2 separate regions of the Homo sapiens genome follow, and region 2 is linked to region 1. The links come from fine-mapping of genetic effects on gene expression. A gene starts in region 1. The other region holds a variant in brackets. All regions are shown on one strand. Distances are between the middles of the regions. Region 1 holds the start of TMEM132C (transmembrane protein 132C). Region 2 has its middle 74 kb from the start of SLC15A4.

Region 1 (2,905 bases):
CCAATTTCTCCTTATGCCTGGCTCATTCCTTAGGGGCTGAGTTGGGAGATAAGACTTGGGGTTGCAGTTGCTGGGGATCATTCGTTTACATTTCTTTTCTTTCAATCAAGGACTTCTTTTTTTCTTTTGAAATTCTTTCCTGCACTGATGGTGAGAAAAGACCCCTCAGGCTTCCTTTTGATGTTGGACCGAGCCAGCCCACGGTGAGAGGGGATGCTGAGCCCGTGGTGAGGAGCTCAGGACAGGAGGGGACGTCCAGAGACCTCCGAACCCATGGCCCTTCATTCCCAGTCACAAGGGGGGAGTCGGGGTCCCGCCCTCAAACTGCTCAGACCACGCGTGGCAGAAAGAGCAGAGCATGAGCATCAGGAACCGCACAGGGAAGCCGCTGAGATCACCTGGGATCACCACCATGAGGGAGGCCAGCCCTGGAGAAATCAGAGGGAAAAGATAGAGAGAACGAAGTCGGGGGGGGGGGGGGGAGGGCGGATCTTCCTTGTCTGAGTCTGCAGAGAAATTGCCTATTGCAGGAGCAAGTCTAGAGAGGGGCTATTCTCCACCCACTGAAAAGATAATAAAACACATGCTATGGGCGGCGGGGAGATGATTGGGGAGTGGAAGCCCCACAGACATGCAGTGAAAAATGATCCTTTCTTCCCCTCTGCGTTCTCGTCCCCTTCCCAGAGACACCGCTGTGATCTCGTGCCTCGCCCCCTCCGCACACGCACAGGTGCACACCCGCATCTGTCTTGAGCCCGCACCCCGCCTTCACGCTCCGCTGCGCGCTGCTTTTCCGCGCTCAGTGATCCAGTTAGGAGCTCTCCCCGCAGCAGCTGCGCGGGACTTTGCATTCCAGATGTCCCCAGCCCTCCAGGCTAAAGCAGCGGCCACCTGAAGTTGAGGAATGGGGCGTGACGACCACCAGGTCCCGCAGTGACCACGGGAGGGTGGGGAGAAGGAGTCCAGCTCCGCCTTGAGCGTCGGGTCCCTGGGCAGGACCCTCCGGGCCACGGGCCGCTGTCCGTTGGGCACCCGGGCAGGAGTCTGCGAACGCTGAGTTTCTCTGGAAAGGCGCGGACCCCCGGAGGAGCCGTCCCAGCCGCCTGGGGAGACGCCCCCTCCTCTCCCGGTCTTCTTTCCCGGGCACACCCTCCCTAGCCCGGGCGGGGGGGTTCTCCATCTGCCGCCCCTCCCGGCGGGCAGGCGAACTCTCTCCTACCGCACCCTCAATCTGTCCGCGGTCGCGGGGCTCGGCGGGGGCGGGGCCCGGGCGGGGGCGGGGGCGGGGCCGGGGGCGGGGCGGGCCGGCGGCTGCGGAGGCTGCGGAGGCTGCGGGAGAAAAGTTGTCCCGGCCGGAGCGCGAGCAGCGGCGGAGCCGGAGCCGCCAGAGCCAGAGCCGGAGCTGCGGCGGCGTGGACCCGGCAGGGGCGGGCCTCGGACAGCAGAGACGCAGCGGGCCCGGCCGACCGGGCTGCGGGAGTGGCCCCGGGCATGGGGCGGCCGGCGGGGGCCGCGGGCGGGCGCTGCGCTTCGGGCTGGCGGCGGGCTGCGTGAGCGGCCGGGACGCAGGATGCGCTCCGAGGGTGCGGCCCCCGGGCCGGCGGCGCCGCTGTGCGGGGCGCTGAGCCTGCTGCTGGGCGCGCTGCTGGGCAAAGGTAAGGCCGGGGCGGGTGCCTGGCGCGCCGACGCATGCGAACTTCCCGGTTCCGGGGGAGCTCGGGGTGAGGGCAGCCGAAGCGAGGGGTGCGGCGGGGGCCTCGGCGGGGGCTCGGATCCCATCAACAGCGCCTCTGCGGGTGCCGAGCCGCCCCTAATCCAGAAGGGCGCTCCCAGCTGGGCGCCGGGATCCGGGCAAGTTAGGCTGGTCCCGAGTCCCGAATCTCCCACCCCGGACCCCCCAGACCCAGAGCTGCCCCGCGGATGAGGAGGGGGCGTGGCTGAGGGACACGGTGTTTGTTCCCCATCCCTGAGTTCCGTGCGGACCTGCCCCAGCCCCAGCACAGTCACCCTGTGGAACTGGCATCCAGGAGAGGTGCTCCGCTCTGTGCGCTCCTTCCTCCCGGCTGTGTGCTCCCTGTCCACAGCTCCCCATCCACAGCTTCGGCACTGTGGGGCTGGTGCTCCAGGAGGGAAGGCCCGGTTCTTTGCATCCCCTTTCCGCAACCGCTAGGGTCTCTGTGCGGGCCCTAGAGGAACGCTCACTCATCGCGCAGCTCACCAGGGACCCCAGCTTGGCAGAAACCAGGGGCTCTCTGCGGGTTCTCTCAAATGAGTCCTTTGCGGTGGGGGAGCGCGGATGGGGAGGTGGGTGCGTCCCTCGCGACGGGAACTACCTCACCAGCGGTCCTGTCCGGGGCTCCTTCACCTCAGTGTCCTCTTCTCTACAATGGGAGTGACGGCCCTGCTTTGGGTTGGAGGAATTTAAAGGAGTTAACGTATGGCGCCCGCAGGGCTCACGAAAGGTAGCCGTGTGGTTTTTCCGACCTTTTTTATTATGTGCGTGTGCGGCCGAGTGGCCGCGCGGATGCGGCGGCGGGAAGGGCGGGGAGAGGCGGTCTCCAGCCCCAGGAGCCGCGGGGCAGGCGGGGAGCAAGGCCTAGGCTCTGCCAGGGCAGCAGCTGCCCGAGTCCCGGGGCGCGCCCAGGGCGTAGAAAAAGGAGAGCGTCGCTTTCCTGCTCCCCGCGCCCTGGCGAAGGTCTCGGGTTCATTTGGTTAAACGGAGGTGCGCACATGGGTGCCCTGAGCCTTCGCGCGGCGCCGCGGGTCCAGTATCGGCCCCAGGCTCTGAGCAGAGAACACTCAAAGCCACCCTTCTCCCGCCTAATGCTCTGAGGCTGAGCTAGAAATGCGTTCAGAGAGACAAGTTGTCAATGGAGGTTTAAAAGTAGCGTTTGCTTTTCAAAAG
Region 2 (2,905 bases), 480 kb after region 1:
GACCATGAGCCCAGGAACGCCGGCAGCCTCTCAAAGCTGGAAAAGACAAGAAAAGAGCTCCTGCCCAGAGCCTCCTGAAGAAACGCAGCCCCACAGACACCTTGAGGATGAGCAGCCCCTTGAGATGCATTCTGACTCCTGACCTGCAGAACTGTGAAATGATAAGTGTGTGTCATCTTCAGCCACTTCAGTTGGTGGTATCTGTTACATCAGCAATGGGAAACTAAGACATCCCCTAAATGTAAAAAGGCTATTCGAAAGATAATGTATAAAAACTAGAAAGCACAGGCTGGGTGTGGTGGCTCACGCCTGTAATCCCAGCACTTTGGGAGGCCGAGGCGGGCAGATCATGAGCTCAGGAGTTTGAGACCAGTCGGGCCAATACGGTGAAACTCCATCTCTACTAAAATTACAAAAATTAGCTGGGCATGGTGGCGGGCGCCTGTAGTCCCAGCTACTCGGCAGGCTGAGGCAGAAGAATCGCTTGAACCCGGGAGGCGGAGGTTGCAGTGAGCCGAGATCATGCCACTGCACTCCAGCCTGGGGGACAGAGTGAGACTCTGTCTCAACAAAAAACAAAACAGAACAAAAACAAAAACTAGAAAGTGCAAGCCGTGCAGGGCCTGTGAAGTGGGCAGGACAGTGGCATCATTCTGGAAGATGCCCTTGCCTTGCTCTGGAGGGAAACAGAGGCACAGACCCAGGTGAGGGGGACCCAGTTCCTCCAGGCTCAGTTGGGGCTCTCTGCTCCTCTCCACTGCTGGATCTTCCACTTTGTAGGCACATCTGGGACCTCAACATGATTAAAATCAGTCTCTCTCCACCACAGCCCTCTCCCCTGAACCCCTCCGCCCTCCCATGTTTCTCTCCAGCCTTTCCTCCAAGCCAACTGGGAACTCGCCTGGAAAAAATAGAACTCTCTGTAGATGGAAGAGGATGGAAGTGAAAGAAAAAAAAAAGTTCTTTATTTGGAGCCATGCAGTGAAAGCAATTATTTGATATTTCTGGAGTACATTTTGCCTTTGCTTTATGAAATAGAGAAAATGGTTTTTAAAAATGCAAAATATGGTTACTATATGGCTATGAGACACATGTTTTTAATAAGATCGGGGTGAGGACAGGTGACTGTTTTCAGGTATGTGAATAGTTGCTGCAAATACATCATAAAGACGGTGCCTGGAAGGTGAGCTGTAATTACAGATCCTAGAATGTCATGTGATGATTTTTTACCGAGAACACACATTCCCCAGGTCCCAGGTTACTGACACATAAGTCTACTGTTTGGCTTTTGACC[A/G]TATTTTCAGTAATTAGGTAGGAGGATGCAGGACTGCCTGGGATGAAATGATGGAAAGTTCTGGAGTCCAGTGGGTGTATGTTTCCATCAAGCTCCACAACTCTCTGGTTATTTTAAGAGTGCTAGAGTTTGGGTTGTAAGTAACATGAATTGGAATTATGTGAATACAAAAAGAAAGTTGAGAGGATCAATTATCAGCAAAACTTTTTAAAATATAATCCCTTAAAGTCAAAAATGTATCAGGAGTCACATAAATTTAAAGCTGTCAAATAAAGTCCATTGAGACCTGCCTGCTGTCTACTGACACATTTTGGTACCGTATTTTACCAGGTGGACAAAATTAGCCCCCAACAGTTGTCAGGAAAGTCTTGAATTAAATGTTGAAGTACACCCAGGTATTGGAAATGCATGTTTCCCCAAAGAGTAATTATGTTCAATTCTAACACAAATTCTTAAATACAGAAATTCTAGTGGCTGTTAAACATTTGACAAGATTTTCAATTGCGCTAAGGATGGGAGGGAAAAAATTATGACAAATAATTTGGGGCTTCTAGGGTTACCAAAGATTAAAACATGGCCAGGCGTGGTGGTTCATGCCTGTAATCCCAGCACATTAGGAGGCTGAAGCAGGAAGATGTCTTGAGGCGAGGAGTTCAAGACCAGCCTGGGCAACATAGTGAGACACCATCTCCACTTATATAAATATAAAAAATTAAAATGTAAAACATGATAATATTCCAGGCATATGCTGGACACTGTGGTCCTGTGAATGGATGTGACCAGTTTGGAGGGCAATTTAGAAATAGCCCCAAATGTCAAAGGAAAACCTCAGCTCGCAATTCTACTCTAACAATATGAAATGGTATTTGAACACATGTAGTCTTCCCAACCAGGGGTGCTCACGTGAATCACGGAACATAGAAAGTGGCTTGAGAGACTATTTTATCAATTCTCTCGAGGGTGGTTACATAACTAACACCTTTCTAGACCCCTGGGAGAAAAGTTCATTCCTTACATACAATGGATGGCTCAGGGCAAGAGAGTGTAATTCTCTTGGGAACACTGGTTGAGAAAACTGTAGATGTCTAGGAATTCATTGTCACCTTGTTTGTGATGCTGAAAAATGGGAAATGACTGATGTAAATGCTTAGCCAAAGGGATAAAGACAGAATGCTACATTCATATAATGGATTAGGAAGCAGCTGGTGACTATGTGAGTATATATGGATATATACTGATCCATTAATACTTCCATGATAAGTCGATAAATTTAAAAGAAAGTTATACCCACTAATATGACTTTATTTGAAAAGACATATCAGCGGGGTGGCTCTCACCTGTAATCCCAGCACTTTTGGATGCCAAGGCAAGAGGATCGCTTGAGCCCAGGAGTTTGAGACCAGCCTGGGCAAGATGGTAAGACCATCTCTATAATTAATAAATTAATTAAAAGATCCCAGCAAGTGTTGGTGAGAATCTGGAGAAATTGGGATGCTCACGCACAGCTTAATGGAAACGTAACATGCAGTTTGTTGCTGCTGTGGAAAACAGCCCAGCGGTTCCTCAAAAGTTTTCCATATGGCCCAGCAGTTTCACTCCTAGGTATAAACC

Evidence for each region. PIP is the estimated chance that this variant, and not a neighbour inherited with it, causes the effect.
Region 2: its variant is the best candidate, but not a certain one, in a credible set for the expression of TMEM132C in whole blood (TOPMed, PIP 0.83).

Annotation. Positions count from the first base shown.
Region 1 is chr12:128,265,833-128,268,737 of GRCh38, forward strand. It overlaps TMEM132C (transmembrane protein 132C), which reads left to right and starts at 1,338. Exons shown (of 9, transcript NM_001136103.3): 1 at 1,338-1,655. The coding sequence starts at 1,571. LOC107987176 (a long non-coding RNA gene) reads right to left here and starts at 1,200. Exons shown (of 2, transcript XR_001749176.1): 1 at 739-1,200. RefSeq lists enhancers at 484-1,005, 1,541-2,379.
Region 2 is chr12:128,748,212-128,751,116 of GRCh38, forward strand. No RefSeq gene overlaps it. Among named protein-coding and RNA genes, the nearest start is that of SLC15A4, 74 kb to the right of the region's middle. The variant A/G (reference allele first, on the strand shown) is at 1,295.